Linked DNA regions of Homo sapiens: region 2 is linked to region 1. A link means that fine-mapping ties the variant in region 1 to the expression of a gene that starts in the linked region. Tissue or cell type: monocytes after R848. Region 1 holds a variant in brackets; the other region holds the start of a gene. All regions are shown on one strand. Distances are from middle to middle.

Evidence for each region. PIP is the estimated chance that this variant, and not a neighbour inherited with it, causes the effect.
Region 2: DNAH17 starts here. The variant in region 1 is fine-mapped to the expression of DNAH17 in monocytes after R848 (Quach 2016, PIP 0.95). The same link has a PIP of 0.9 or more in monocytes after LPS.

Annotation. Positions count from the first base shown.
Region 1 is chr17:78,531,030-78,539,029 of GRCh38, forward strand. It overlaps DNAH17 (dynein axonemal heavy chain 17), which reads right to left. Exons shown (of 81, transcript NM_173628.4): 19 at 6,270-6,452; 20 at 1,453-1,707. It also overlaps the pseudogene RN7SL454P. Among named protein-coding and RNA genes, the nearest start is that of DNAH17, 42 kb to the right of the region's middle. RefSeq lists an enhancer at 1,339-2,538. The variant G/A (reference allele first, on the strand shown) is at 4,503.
Region 2 is chr17:78,572,753-78,580,752 of GRCh38, forward strand. DNAH17 (dynein axonemal heavy chain 17) reads right to left here and starts at 4,644. Exons shown (of 81, transcript NM_173628.4): 1 at 4,543-4,644; 2 at 1,961-2,330; 3 at 1-142. The coding sequence starts at 2,305.

The DNA of each region.
Region 1 (8,000 bases):
GTAAAGTGTTCTGTAGCTGTCTGTTGGTCCCTGTGATCTAAAGTGCAGTTTAACTCCAATGTTTCTTTGCTGATTTTCTGTCTAGATGATCTGTCTGACGCTGAGAGCAGGGTGTTGAAAACCCTAACTGTTACTGTACTGGGGTCTCTCCCTTTAGATCTACCACTGTTTGCTTTATATATCTGGGTGCTCTGGTGCTGGGCGCATAGATATGTAGAATTGTTAAATCCTCTCGCTGAGTTGATCCTTTTGTCATTACATAGTGACCTTCTTGGTCTCGTTTTACTGTTTGTGACATAAAGTCTGTCTTTTTTTTTTTTTTTTTTTTGAGATGGAGTCTTGCTCTGTCACCAGGCTGGAGTGCAGTGGCGTGATCTTGACTCACTGCAAGCTCCGCCTCCTGGGTTCACACCATTCTCTTGCCTCAGCCTCCCGAGTAGCTGGAACTACAGGCGCCTGCCACCACGCCCAGCTAATTTTTTGTATTTTCAGTACAGATGGGGTTTCACCGTGTTAGCCAGGATGGTCTCGATCTCCTGACCTCACGATCCAACCGCCTCGGCCTCCCAAAGTGCTGGTATCACAGGCGTGAGCCACCACGCCCGGCCGACATAAAGTCTGTCTTATCTGATGTAACTATAGTTATTCCTACTTGTTCTTGGTTTCTGTTTGTGTGGAATCTCTTTTTCTATTCTTTTGCATTCAATCTGTCTTTACAGGTGAAGTGAGTTTCTTCTAAGCAGCATATATTGGGGTTACCTTCATCCATTCAGACAATCTATATCTTTTAAGTGGGGAATTGAATCCATTTACATTTGAGGTTATTACACTGACAGGTGTGATTTTCTGTGTTCTTCATGCTCTGACATCTGGGGCCTTGCCCATGGACGACCCCTCCCAGGCCTAGTCAATTTTGAGAGACAACAAACAATTCACCTGGGGGTGTGGTTTCATATGCAAATGAGCCAACCCGGAGCCCACACCTCCGACCATCCCCTTGATGGGGCTCTCACAGGGTTTTACCTTCTGGGCTGCTACCCACTAGCCCTCAGCCCTCATCTCCCTGAGGTCAGGTACCAGACAGCCCCTATAGCCTAGAGCCTGCTGAAATTATTCAAACTTGCCAACCCTAAGCCTGTGACCTCTGCCCATTCCTTCCCTGGAAGCCACAATAAAGGCTCTTTATTTTCCCCACATTTTCCCCAGCTCCCTCTGCCTCCTGACTGACCCTGATGCTACCCCGTGCAGGCCTGTGTGGTGTGCTATGCCCCCTTCTTGGGAACTGTAAGTAACAAACTGCCTTTCTAATGGTGGTCACCTCCTGATGTTTGCCTTGCCCTACCTGGAAACCTGCATCTTAAAACAATTCACCCAAGTTTTAAAGCAAGCCTGGTGATCCTCTCCTGGAAGACTCTGGAGACAAGGAGGCTGGTGGGTGAGGTCTGCACGCACCTGCTCCTGGAACTGAGCCAGGGTGGGCGGTGTCTTGGGGATGGTGTCATCTGTCCAGGTGTCCAAGTCCTCCGCAGTGACTGCACACCCATATATCAGGAAATTCTTCATAAACTCCTGCAGGTTGTCCGTCCAGAGGTAGGAGTACCTCTCAAAGGAATCCTGGTACTCCTCGGCCTCCTTCATGGCATTGATGACCAGGCTGGACACCTCCTCCCTCATCTCTATGAGGTCTGTGTTATCTTCCAGGTCCATCTGAAAGGGGCAGGGGAGAAGCAAAAAGGGGAGGTATGTTGCCTGGTTCATAATTTAGGTGTTGTCCTCTCGGCCTTGAGAAGTGGTTCTCTGTTGGCGAAAGGGCTTCCAATCTCTCATGATGACCTGCTCTTTTTCCAGCCTGGGCCGATCACCCCTCTTTAGGCAACCTGGTGGTCCCCCACTCCTGGGAGGTCACCATACTGATGCCAAACTTAGTGGATAGCACACTACAGCCCAGAACTCCTGGGCTCAAGCGATCCTCCTGCCTCAGCCTCCCAAGTAGCTGGGACCACAGGCACGTGCCACTGTGCCTGGCCCAAGCTCTCACCACGGGAAATAGGAACCTTTGCCGATTTGCAATATTCTGCCATGGGAAGGTATGCCAAGTGTGACGTTTGTCTGGGGAACCCCGAGATGACTCACACATTGATTCATTCATTCGATAGCTCGCTCTCACTGCGTACCACATGCTGGGATAGATACTGGGGCACAGGCAGGGAGTGTACAGCCCAGGAATGGGGTCTGACATTCATCAAAGAATCACAGAAAAAAGCATCTCCACCCTCCCCCTTGCTTCAGGTGAAATGGGGAGCAGGTCAGGGAATGGCCCCGAGGAAATGGCCATTGGTCTGAGAGCTGATGGATGGGTAGACAAGGAGCAAGAGAAGCGGCTTTCCTGGCAACAGCAAAGCACGTGCAAAGGCCCCGTGGTGGGAGGAGGCAGCGTGTTAGGGGAACTAAAGGAAGTCTACTGTCGGTGGCTAGAGCAGAGAGCACGAGAGGCCAGTGCTATACGGATCTTTTTAGTTGCCAGTGACAGAAAACCCAACCCAAACTGGTTAAGCAAAGAGAGAACTCGTTGGCTTATATACAGGACTGGAGAATCCCAAGGTGGTCGGTGTGTGTATTAATCACATTTTTATTGTCTGCATCTTATGAAATTTTGACATCTTATTTCTTTTTGAGACAGAGTTTCGGTCTGTCACCCAGGCCGGAGTGCAGTGGCCCGATCTCAGCTCACTACACCCTCTGCCTCCCAGGTTCAAGTGATTCTCCTGCCTCAGCCTCCCAAATAGCTGGGATTACAGGCTCCCACCACCATGCCTGGCTAATTTTTTGCATTTTTATTAGAGGCGGGGTTTCACCGTGTTGGTCAGGCTGGTCTCAAACTCCTGACCTCAGGTGATCCACCTGCCTCAGCCTCCCAAAGTGTTGGGATTACAGGCGTGAGCCAATGCGCCCAGCCCAATTTTGACATCTTAAAAAAATAAAATAAAAAAACCTTATGGGCCAGGAAGAGCCGGCCTTTCCCAGGGCTAGGCAATTCTTTGAGATAGCAAAAGGCTCATCTGGGGGCATGCATATGCAAACCAGCCGACCCTCAACCACTCCCCTTTACCCAACTCTCACACCAAGCCAGTATTTCCCCTGCCCTAAATCACCCAGGGTCAGGTACCAGACAACTGAAGACAGCCTATAGCCCAGAGCCCACATGACAGCTGCAGAGAGGCCCCATCGGGACCCAGATGTGCATGGAGATCTTGTCTGTGCAGGGGACCTCGTTGGTAAGGGGTGGCACGAGGAAACGGTGTAATTGAGGAGGTGAAGTCAGTGGGGCTGGGATGGAAGGGGAAGGTTGGCCCTAGGGCTGGGCCGGGCCACCCTGCATGTAAGTTGTGGATGGAAAGAAGCCACAGGGGAGAGAAACCTGAAGCTCCTCGTGGCTGCAGGAAAGCATTTGGTGTGTGCTTCAGAATTCAGCCATGGGCTCGCCTGTGCCTGACATTTGGCTCCCACCCCTCCTCATGGCCCCTCTTTCTGCTCAGGGTTGGGAGTGCAGTGTTCAGAGCACAGGCAGGTGCTTCTGGATTTCAGTGTTGTAACTTCCAGGCATCTACCTGCTCCAGCTGAGATTGTCCCCTGCAGTCCTTTGGATCTCCCCAGGTGGGATCCAAGTTCCAGTTGGGCTGGGCTGGTGGCAGCCTGGCATACCAGAGGCAGGTGAGACCTGCTGCCTGGGGTCTCTGCCCCTTGCTGGTGTCCCCTGTGGGCAGCTCAGCTCTCTAAATCCCTGTGGCAGCCTGGGGCCCACATTCTATCTCCTCCTTGTCCTGACCCAACTCCTCTGGGTTGGCCACCCTGGTACCCATGGGAAGCATCCCTTGGGTACTCTCTGCCACCAAGCTAGGGTACTTGGGTCTCTGGGAAGTGGCCCTGGGACCCAGCAGTCTAGATGCCTGACTCTCTCATTGTCTTCCACAGCTTGGCACCAGGTAAGACTCTGCTAGACCAGCAGGCTTTCGAGGGACCCTTCTCCTGGGCAACAGGCCCTTCAGCTCTGGAATGTTCTGCCTGAGCGTCCCAGGGTGTCTGCAAGGCAGCCTGAGTGTTTGTGCTGGCAGAGCCCAGGGGTGGAGCAGCTCTGTCTGCAGCAACCGTGGGTGCCCAAGAGCAGCCTGCTTTGGGGACAGTGGGAGGGGCACACCCGGGACACACTGATTCTGAGGACATGTGCTAACCTAGCGTCTGCATAACTGGGGCAAATTCTATTCTCAACTCTGGAACAGCTTGCTGCTTGCACTTGGGCCTAAAATCACAGCCATCTTCTCAGCATGGAAACCTCCTCCCACCCTTCCAGAATCCGCTCACACGCCCACTCCTCTCAGGAGCTGTCCTTGACCTTCTCAGGTCATTAGCTGTTCCCTCGTGTCCTCATGTCACCTCTGTACAAGCATGCCTCCCCACCACACATGCAAATACGCACACGGGCACATATGCATCCAAGCACACGC[G/A]TACACACACGAGCACACGCACATCCCTCCCTCCTGGACAGGACAGCTCATCTCGCTGTAAATATATGTTATGACAAATCATACGTGTCCATTATTTTACAATTCAAACAACGCAGAAATGCATGAGAGGAAACGCCTGCAGCCACATCCCTCTCCCCTCCCCTCCTTCCTCCCTTCCTGGTAAGCACTCACCCAGATTTTTGCTTGTTTAAGCAAATGAAACCATATTCTAAACATTGTTCTGTAACTTGATAAATGTCTAATAACCTGTCACAACACCTTTCCATCCTTGGCTCATTGTGACAATTCACAGAATCTGGGTTTGGGCCAGAATTGGTCAAGCCACTCCCCTCTTCCACAAACATTTAGGTCACTTAAGTCTTTTCAGATTTTTTTTTATTGCTATACAAATAGGTGCTTTGACAAACACACCACCTCAAACCTCCCTTAAGCGGGGAGCTGAATTTCCCATGACTTTTGTTGTCCTTCCTACCCCAGAGCCTGGCCAGGCTCTCCGTGTGTCTTGTTTGATGCGTTTAGACGAGATGATTTCAGAAGGCAGTGGGAGGCACATTTGTCAAATTGCCTGAGTACTGGGAGAATCAGTGTTTACATTACAGGACTGAGGCCGGGCACGGTGGCTCACACCTGTAATCCCAGCACTTTGGGAGGCCAAGGCGGGTGGATCACAAGGTCGGGAGATTGAGACCATCCTGGCCAACATGGTGAAACCCCGTCTCTACTAAAAATATATAAAAAAAAAGAAAAATTAGCCAGGCATGGTGGCATGCACCTGTAGTCCCAGCTACTCAGGAGGCTGAGGCAGGAGAATCGCTTGAACCCAGGAGGCGGAGGTTGCAGTCAGCTGAGATTATGCTACTGCACTCCAGCCTGGGCAACAGAGCAAGACTCTGTCTCAAAAAATAAAAAAATTAAGAAGTTTAAGACCACTCTGGGCAACAACATGGCAAAACCCCATCTCTACAAAAAAATACATCACCAAGCTGGGCTTGGTGATGCATGCTCGTAATCCCAGCTACTTGGGAGACTGAGGCGGGAGGATCAATTGGGCCCGGGAGGCAGAGGCTGCAGTCAGCCGAGATTGAACCACTGCACTCCAGCCTGGGTGACAGAGTGAGACCTTGTCTCAAAAAAATTACAGGACTGAGTGAACAGTCAGGAAGTTGGGAAAGGTTACCCTCTTGGCATCGTGTCGGGGGGTTGGAAGGATGATGAGGGAATGAAACCCAGGCAGGTTGACTGAGAAGAAGCTGCTTTGGGAAGGACGACAGATGTGGGAGTGGGGAGAGAAGTGGCCATGTCATCCTAGAGGTCACACGATGTCATTTAAAAGGTAAGCAGGGCCGGGCGCGGTGGCTCACGCCTATAATCCCAGCACTTTGGGAGGCCGAGGCGGGTGGATCATGAGTTCAGGAGATCCAGACCATCCTGGCTAACACGGTTAAACCCAGTCTCTACTAAAAAAAAATAAAAAAATTAGCCGGGTGTGGTGGCGGGTGCCTGTAATCCCAGCTACTCGGGACGCTGAGGCAGGAGAATGGCTTGAACCCAGGAGGCGGAGGTTGCAGTGAGCCAAGATCGCGCCACTGCACTCCAGCCTGGGCGACAGAGTGAGATTCCGTCTCAAAAAAAAAAAAAGAAAAAAAGAAAAGGTAAACGGCGAAGCCTTGCCGAGTTAGGGCGGCAACACCAAATGGGGAAAGCAATGGATGACCCTGTGTACGGCCAGAAGAGGCCAGGACTGACCTTGTAGTTCATCCTGTCCTTGGCCAGCCGAGGGATGAGCCTGGCTACGTTGTAGATGTCGTTGACCAGGCCCTCGATCAGTGCCAGGAAGCCGCGATCTGAGCCCACCTCCAGGGTCGGGTTGAAGGTCAGCCCATCCTCGTCCAGCTCCATGCGGATCTCAAACAGGGGAGCGATACTCTCCTGAAAGAGGGGTGGGGTTGGCAGTGGTCAACACCTCTGTCCTCCATCGGATGATTCTCAGTGCCCTGATCATCCACTCCGTACCATCAATGTGTCACTGCCTTCCACTTATCTGGGAAGCTTCTGAGAGCTCGTGTCTCAGCGCACCCCGCTCCTTGAGCAATCGCTACAGAGCCAAATGTACAGCCACAAGGCCAAAAGCAGGCAGGGGCAGGTTGGGGCAAGGGGAGGGGCAGGATCAGGTAGAACTCAGACCTCGGTTCAAAGCCCACACCTGCTACTTGCCAGCTCTGAGGCCTTGGGGAGTCACTTAACTCCCAGTTTCCCCAAATATATAAAATGAGGCTAAATATTTTATAGAATGGAGACATTGTTGGCTAGGCGCAGTGGCTCATGCCTGTAATCCCAGCACTTTGGGAGGCCAAGGCGGGTGGATCACCTGAGGTCAGGAGTTTGAGACCAGCCTGGCCCACATGGCGAAGCCCCGTCTCTACTAAAAATACAAAATAATTAGCTGGGCCTGGTGGTGGGTGTCTGGAACCCCAGCTACTCGGGAGGCTGAGGCAGGAAATCGCTTGAACCCAAGAGGCGGAGGTTGCAATGAGCTGAGATTGTGCCATTGCACTCCAGCCTGGGCAAGAGCAAAACTCTGTCTCCAAAAAAAAAAAAAAAAAAAAAAAAAGAATGGAGACATTGTTTCCATTGTTCTGGGTTACTACAGGGGCTAAATGAATCACTGACACACAAAGCAGGTACTGCAGGGGCTGGCCAAGCCTGCCTGTCCCTCTCCCTTGGAAGTCCCCGTTTACAGAGTTCTGGAGGCCCCTGTGAGGCTGCAGGGCTGCAGGTGCTGCTCTGGTTTACAGTGATGGGATTGAGAACCCAAGTGCTCTTCCTGCCAAACTAACGATTCTCAAAATGTGGGCCAGGATCCACCAGGCTGTGAGATCACACTGTGGCCACTGATCTCCCCCTGAATGAGTCCCCATTGGACCTGTGGGTTATGAGCTTTTGAGCCCCCCAATTTGTCTATGAGCAGGAGGGGGCTGTATCAGTATCTGAGTGAGGTGCTAATTGGGACAAACGGTCAATTGTGTGACCAGACTTCTCTAAAGACTCAGGTCGGCTCCTGCCCCCAGGCTACTCACAAAGTAGGAGGACTCCCTGGAACTCTTTGAGGAGAACCCTTTGTTACTGGGACTTCTTTATGGTTTTTGTTGAGACGCTTTCACTGGGACAGTCTGTAGTGACGAGTACTTTCGTCAACTGAATTTTGGGTCTGTGACTGGTTACCAGCTGGCATCTGAGACCCATATGCCAGACTCAAACACCATCCACCCTCCCTGGTCGGTACAAGGGCACGACACTGCCACGTTCCTTTGTTGTTGGTAGCCTGGGGGAGCCTTTGATCTTGGCCTCCTGGCGGTACTCAAAATCATTTAGAAACCATCTCAACAAAAAAGATGCAGGGCTGGGCACAGTGGTTCACGCCTGTAATCCCAGCACTTTGGGAGGCCGAGGTTGGTCGATCATGAGGTCAGGAATTCA
Region 2 (8,000 bases), 42 kb after region 1:
GCAGCAAGGTTTTGCCTTTGATCTTGCCACTCATCACAAACATTTCATTCTTCAGCCTGTGGACCTGCTTCACGATGTCTTCCGAGACCACCTGGGGCCATCCAGCCATGTTCTCACTTTGGTTTAACAGAGAAGAGAGGACCTAAAAGGAAACACTTCTGTGGTTCCGCCCCCTGTGCCTTCACCAGCTCGGCAACCGCACAGAGCCAGGTCCCCGGGGGGTTCCAAAGACCCGGTGTCTGGAGCCCTGGGAAAACTGGGTCCCGCACAGAGCCAGGTCCCCAGGGGGATTCCAAAGACCTGGTGTCTGGAGCCCTGGGAAAACTGGATCCTTCTTCCAGAAGGAGGTGTGGCCGGTCATGGAGTTTATACCAGCTGCCCTGTCCTGGTGGTACCAAAGCCATCCCCAAGCTCTTGCACCCATAGCACACACTCCTTGCTAAAAGCCTAGGAGGACTGTGATGGGTCAAACTGTGTCCCCCAAATCCATCTGCTGAAGCCCTAACTCCCAGCACCTTAGAATGTGACTATTTGGAGATAGGGTCTTTAAAGAGGTGAGTAAGGGCTGGGGGCGGTAGCTCATACCTGTAAATCCTAGGACTTAGGGAGGCCGAGGCAGGTACATCACCTGAGGTCAAGAGTTTGAGACCAGCCTGGCCAACATGGTGAAACCTCGTCTCTACTGAAAATATAAAAATTAGCCAGGCATGGTGGCACCTGCCTATAATCCCAGCTATTTGGGAGGCTGAGGCAAGAGAATCATTTGAACCTGGGAGGTGGAGGTTGCAGTGAGCTGAGATCACACCATTGCCCTCCAGACTGGACAACAGAGCAAAAATACTGTCAAAAAAAAAAAAAAAGAGGTGAGTAATTAAAATCAGATTACTAGGGTGGGCCCTAGTCTGACAGGTGTCCTTACGAGGAGGGGAGATTAGACATGCACAGAAGGCCGACCACATGAGGACCCAGGGAGAAGATGTCCATCTGCAAGTCAAGGAGAGAGGCCTTGGGGAAAACCAACCCCGCCGACACCTTCAACTTCAACCTCTAGCCTCCAGGACTGTGAGAAAATGTCTGGTGTACAAGCGAAGCACACAGGCCCCTGTACTGCAGATGAGAAGAGTGATGACCAGGAAGGATAAGGCACCCCCATTCTGGAGGTCCGAATCCCCAAAGTGTGTCCCCCCCACCTACACAGCACCTGCCAAGGGGGACAGCAGAGGGACACATAAAATGACACTCCATTTTTTCCCCTTTCTTAAGTCAAAGTCTCAAAATTGGAGAAACCTATCTGCCAGTACTCAGTCCCCACCTTCCCAGGCCATGGGCAGCAACCGTACCCGGCACAGCATGGCAGTCTCAATGCTGTCCAGAGAGAACAAGGGGATGCTCGGGGCTTCTCAGACTTCAAGGGCACGAGCACCACCTGGAGGTCTTGTTAGACAGCAGGTCTGTGGCCGGGCATGATGGCTCACGCCTATAATCCCAACAGTTTGGGAGGTTGAGGCAGGAGGATCGCTTGAGCCCAGGAGTCTTGAGACCAGCCTGGGCAACAGGCTATTTTTTGGTGAGACCTCATCTCTTACCAAAAAATACGAAAATTAGCCAGGTGTGGTGGTGCATGCCTGTGGTCCCAGCTACTCAGGAGGCTGAGGCTGGAGGATTGGTTGAGCTTAGGAGGTTGAGGCTGCAGTGAGCTGTGCTCCCACCACTGCACTCCAGCCTGGGAAGCAGAGTGAGACCCTGTCTCAAAAAAAAAAAAAAATTTAAAAACCAAAAGCAAGCAGGTCTGTCTCAGCAGGTCAGGGTGGACGGGGCCCGAGCGCCTGCATTTCCAATCCCTCCCCGGCTCTGCAGCTGCTGCTGGCCCAGGGACTCCAGGCTGAGCAGCAGGACTCAAGGCCGCTCCCGAGAAGTCGGTCGTGCTCGACACCCCGGATGGCAGCCTGGACGCACTCACCTCCTCCACCACCGCGATCAGCTGGTCCACGGGTGTGGGGCTGATGTCGCCGTAAAGGAGCCGGGCCCTGTAGTTGTCCTTGTTGATGTTCTCGGACTTTGTCTTGATGAAGTAAACCCCTTTGGACTTGAGGGACTGGGGGAAGCCCAGGCAGGGTATGATCATGCCGGCTGCATTGAGCGTCAGCACCAGCACCTGGACGTCGGGCTTTTCAAAGAACTCTGTGAACAGGGCCACGTTCTCCTCGGCGCCTATCAGCTTGCTCCACTTGTCCGGCTTGAACTTCAGGACGATGGAGGCAACTTCCTCCAGATACTCTAGTCTGACGTCCGGGGCCATTGTCATCTTGGCCTTTCCTTACACTGTGTATCTGTTAAGAGTGCAAGAAACAGGTACGAACTGTCTCCCGGGCTCCCCAATTTCCCACCCATCCCTGGCACCGCAGGAAATCTCTGTTTCTACCGGAGCAGGAACAAAACAGTTGGTCGAGAGTGTGCAGTTTTTAGCTGTGGTTGGGTTGGGGTGGGGGTGCTTTAGCAGGTGCTGGCACCTGCCCCGGCCCCGCCATGGGGGGTGCCCCGGGAGTGAGGCTGCCCAAAAGTGGTGTGTGCTTACAATCCTGTGACCATAAAGTTCAGAGGATGGGAAAGATAGAGATGAATGCTGGAGAAAGAGAGAAAAGGAAATGGCCGCAACCAGACAGTGTGAAGGGGATGGGGTAGGAAAAGGCAGAACAAGAGGCTGGGGGGTCAGGTTGAAAGGTCCTGGGAAAGCAATAAAAGACGTCGCAGCCCCAGAGTATGTGTGAAACGCAAGAAGGAAGCAGACCCCACGTGCAGGCCGTGAGGCTCAGCGCTCAGTCTTAGCCGCAGCCGTGGTGCACCTTAACTTTCACTCTGCTCTGCACCCTTTCTCCCTCCAGCCCCCAGCGTGCACCCCTAAAAGAATCGAGCTGCAAATTCCTGACAGACCCCTCACAAGCTGCTCAGATGCTCGGGGGTAGGGTTAACTAGAGAATTGGGGGGAAGGGATCCCCTTAAAGAACACCCTGAAGTCCCAAAGTTTAGGCAAGTGAGGTACTTACAGAATTTAAAGACACACCCAAACAGTCATCAAGAGAAAAGGCATGTCAATATTTTTAAACATCAAAATGAATGCAAACAAATTTATGAACAAAATACCAAAGTTTCAAATAAAGACAGGCTCTGGCAAGAGGCCTGAGGTGGGGGCCTTGGAGGCGAGTTCTGCAAGGGCAGGGTTGAATGCAAAGGGTCGCCTGATGCTGTGTTTTCATCACAATCTGGGAGGTATGCAGCTCCTGAATTTCAAGGGGAACCCTGGGGTATTCAGCTGCTCTGGGGGTCCGTGGGCTGGGGCTGGCCTGCTCCAGACCTGGCAGCTGCTGAAAAGCATCAGGGTGGACAGATGACGTTGGAAGCACTCACAAATTCTGCCTTTTGGTTTGACCCAAGCTATTGCTTTTAAGTTTGTAACAGCCTACAGTTCCCCAAAAGACACGTAATACCACGGAACAGGTTTATTTCACCCTGGCCACTATATATCGGCAAAACAACTATATGATGGGAAGCAGTAGTGGATAGCATTTGGATGCTATTCAAATGGTCTGAGATTTATTCAAGGCTCCAAACATCTCTGAGAGAGGACTTGGGGAATATTTGGCCAGCAAATGGCAGAAACATGGCGGTCCACGAGCAAAGCCACCCGATTCAGGCACATCTGTGAAAGAAAAAGGGGACACCACCAGGCAAGTAGGAGGAGCACCGCGTGGCATTTATGGAGATGACTCGTTCACCAGGTTCCCACAGGGCTTTCAGCATGCTGCTGAATTAATCTCCACCCAGGATCTCCGAGACCCGGGGACGCGTCACGTCGTCATTTCCTAGGGGGATCAGGAACTCAGGGGAGCCCGAGTCCTGGAAGGTTCCTGATTGGAAGTCTCGCCAAGCTGGTCAGGCGACTGGACTGGAGGGAAACATCCTCTGGTTTACTGATTTTGTGGATTTGGGCTTTCACAAAGTCATCTTTTCTTCCAAGAACGGCATGGGGTGGGCTGCCTCCCAAGCCATAACATGTGTGGGCTGAGGGGCCCCTACACCCCGCAAGTTTCTTGCACGATCGGGAGGTCTCATCTCAGGCTCCCACCCAGCCGTTTCCTGGGCTGAAGGCCAGGAGGTCCCAGTTAACAATAGGGTTGTCCCAGGCCATGCTTCCGGAGGGGCAGAGACGGCTTCTCTGGGAGGTGGCCCATGCCCCAGGCCTTCAGGACTCCACAGGAGGAAGCTGGGGCTAGGGGCTTCCAGGAGAAGCCAGGGGGCTGAGGCAAGGCCTTCCCAGGAGCAGGGAAGAGTCTGGAGCCCTGGAAGGGGTCAGGCTGGTACGTGGCAGCCAGCCTCGGGGTCCCAGAGCCATGAACAGCTCCCGGTGGCGAGCAGAGCCACTTCTGGGGTAAGTGGAGGGTCTGCTGTCTGCCAGGGCCTAGGTCCCACCTCCATCCTCTGAAGGCCTCCCTGCTCCCTCCACCTTGGCCTCCGACTCCCCCAGCATGGTTGAAGGCCGCTCACCAGCTGAAGGCAAACAGCTTCTCCCGCAAACTGATGAGCAACTCTTTCCCAAACCAGGAAAGAAAATGGCTCCCTTCCCTCGAGGGGCTCCAACTGCCACATAACTTCTGGGAGTCTCCTCACGGTACCTGGGGCTTCTAGAACCTTCCCCTTGGGACCCAAGTAACCAATGATAGCGCAGCAAATGAGGAACCAACCGTCACCCCACAGTGGAAAGGCTCTTAGATGATCATTTTGAGGGGAGGTTGGAGGGGGGACAGGGTCGCGCTCTGTTACCCAGGCTGGAGTGCAGTGGTACAATCATAACTCACTGCAGCCTCAAACTCCTGGGCTTACGTGATCCCCCCCCCTCAGCCTCCTGAGAAGTTAGGACAACAGACGCACATCACCACACCTGGCTAATTTTTGTACTTTTTGTAGAGATGAGGTCTCACTCTGTTGCCCAGGCTGGTCTCAAACTCCTGGCCTCAAGCAATCCTCCCAAAGTGGAAAGGAAGACATTATCTCTGTTTACAATAAGGTGATCTTGTATGTAGAAAATCCCAAGAAATCCATAAAATTGTAGAGCTAATAGAGGAATTCAGCAAGTTTGCAGTATACAAGATATTTGAAAATTAATTATATTTCTCTGTAATTATATTATGAACAATCTGATGATGAAATTTAGAAAACAATTGTCCCCATAATGAACAATCTGATCATGAAATTTAGAAAACAACTCCCATTTACAACAGCATCAAAATAATTTCGTTTACAATAGCGTCAAAAACAACAAAATACTTAGGAATAAACTTTAAAAAGAAGTGTTAAGACTTGTACACTGAAAACTGCAAAACATCATGGAAATAAAGACAACCTAAATCAATGGAAGGACATGCTGTGTTCATGGGTTAGAAGATTGTTAAGACGGGCCAGGCGTGATGGCTCACGCCTGTAATCCCAGCACTTTGGGAGGCCAAGGCGGGTGGATCACGAGGTCAGGAGATCGAGACCATCCTGGCTAACACGGTGAAACCCCATCTCTACTAAAAATACAAAAAAATTAGCCGGGCGTGGTGGTGGGTGCCTGTAGTTCCAGCTACTCAGGAGGCTGAGGCAGGAGAATGGCATGTACCTGGGAGGCGGAGCTTGCAGTGAGCCGAGATCCCGCCATTGCCCTCCAGCCTGGGAGACAGAGTGAGACTCCGTCTCAAAAAAAAAAAAAAAAGAAGATTGTTAAGATGACGACAGTTCTCCTCAAGTTGATCTGCAGATTCAACACAATCCTTATCAAACTCTCAGCTGCCTTTTTTGTAGAAATGACCCTAGATTTTATAGGGAAGTATGAGGGAACAAAAACCATCCAAACAACTTTGAAAAAGAACAAAGTCTGAAGACACACACTTCCTGATTTCAAAACTCACTACAAAGCTACAGTTATCAAGACAGTGCTACCAGCATAACAATAGACAGAGATCACTAGAATAGAATTGAGGTTCCAGAAATAAATGCATCCATTTATGGACGATTGAGTTAGCAAAGGTGCCAAGACAACTCAATGGGAAAAGAATCACCTTTTCAACAAATGGTATTGGAATAACTGAATACCCACATGCGGAAAAACGAAGCTGGGCCCTTACCTCACGCCATCTACACGAATTAACTCAGCATAGATTAACAGAATGCAAGAGCCAAATGTAAGAGCTAAAACTATAAAACTCTTAGAAGAGCACACAGGAGTTGATCTGACCTCAGATGAGGCAATGATGTCTTACATATGATGCCAAAAGCATAAGTGAGCAAAGGAAAAAAGATAAGTTTAACTTCATCAAAACCAAAAACTTTTATGCTTCAAAAGGCACCCTAAAAAAGGGAAAAGATGACCCATAGAATGGGAGAAAATATTTGCAAATCATATATCTGACAAGGGACTTGTCGTAATACAATAAAACAACCTAATTTTAAGGAGTAAAGGATATAGATATTTCTTCAAGAAAGATACACAAATGACCAGTATGCACATGGAAAGCAGCTTGATATCATTAGCCATTAGGAAAATGCAAATCAAAGTAAAATGAACTTCAATGAGGTCCCTAGAGTAGTCAAATTCATTAAGTAGAATGGAGGTTGCCAAGGGCTAGGGAGGGAGAATAGGAATTTATTTTTTAATGGGGCCGTCAGAGGCATTTGAACCAGAGCCACTCCATTTTGAATGGGGTCTGGGTAAAATAAGGCCCTACTGCATTCCCAGGAGGTGAAGGCATTCTTAGTCACAGGGTGAGACGGGGGTTCAGCACAAGTCATAAAGAGCTTGCTGATAAAACAGGTTGCGGTAAAGAAGCTGGCCAAAGCCCACCAAAACCAAGATGACCTCTGGTGGTCCTCACTGCTACACTCCCACCAGCACCGTAACAGTTTGCAAATGCCATGGCAATGTCAGGAAGTTACCCTAGATGGTCTAAAAAGGGGAGGCATGAATAATCCACCCCTTGTTTAGCATATCCTCAAGAAATAACCATAAAAATGGGCAACCAGCAGCCCTCAGGCTGCTCTGCCTATGGAGTTGCCATTCTTTCATTCCTTTACTTTCTTAATAAACTTGTTTCACTTTACTCTATGGACTCACCCTGAATTTCTTCTTGCACGAGATCCAAGAACCCTCTCTTGGGGTCTGGATCTGGACCCCTTTCTGGTAACAGGGTCAGAGTTTCAATTTGGGATAGTGAAGAAGTTCTAGAGATGGATGGTGGTGGTGTTTTTACAACGATGTAAGTGTACTCAGTGCCACGGAACTGTACACTTAAAATGGCTAAAATGGTAAATGTTATGCTCTGTGTATTTTCCCACACAAAAAAACCCCAATTCATTCCCACTAGAATGGATAAAATTGAGAAGACAGAAAAAAACAAAACAAAACACCAGGCACGGGCAAGGATGTGAAGGAATTGGCACCCTCATCCACGGCTGATATGGTATAAACATTGCAGCCACTTTGGAAAAGTGACAGTTCCCCAAAAGGTTAAACATGGGGCTACCAATTAGCTACCCCCTCCTAGGGGTGCACCAGGGAGAAATCAAAACACACACATATTCGCAGCAGCATTCTTCATAATAAACTAAAAGTAGAGGTGAAGGAAGACCTCTGTCCCGGCTCAGAGGGACATGGGAGGGGTGGCAGGGTCCTGTCCCCGGTGGGCTGAGGGCAGCCACATTGGCAGCAGGGTGCCCGGCAGCATCCCTGCCATGTGAGGATAGGAAGGCCACCCTCGGGCTCTCCAGAAGCTACCAGGGAAGGGCAATGAACGGAACAGACTTTGTACAATCTTAGGGTGTGTCCACCACAGAAGTTGGCACTGTCCCACACCAACATCCAGGAGCAAAATCAGTGCCACTAAACCGTCACTTCAGTTCTGCATATCACCCCAGAGCTCCCAGACACAGGGGTACTCAGCAAGCCCCCACAAATTCCAGCTGTCTGC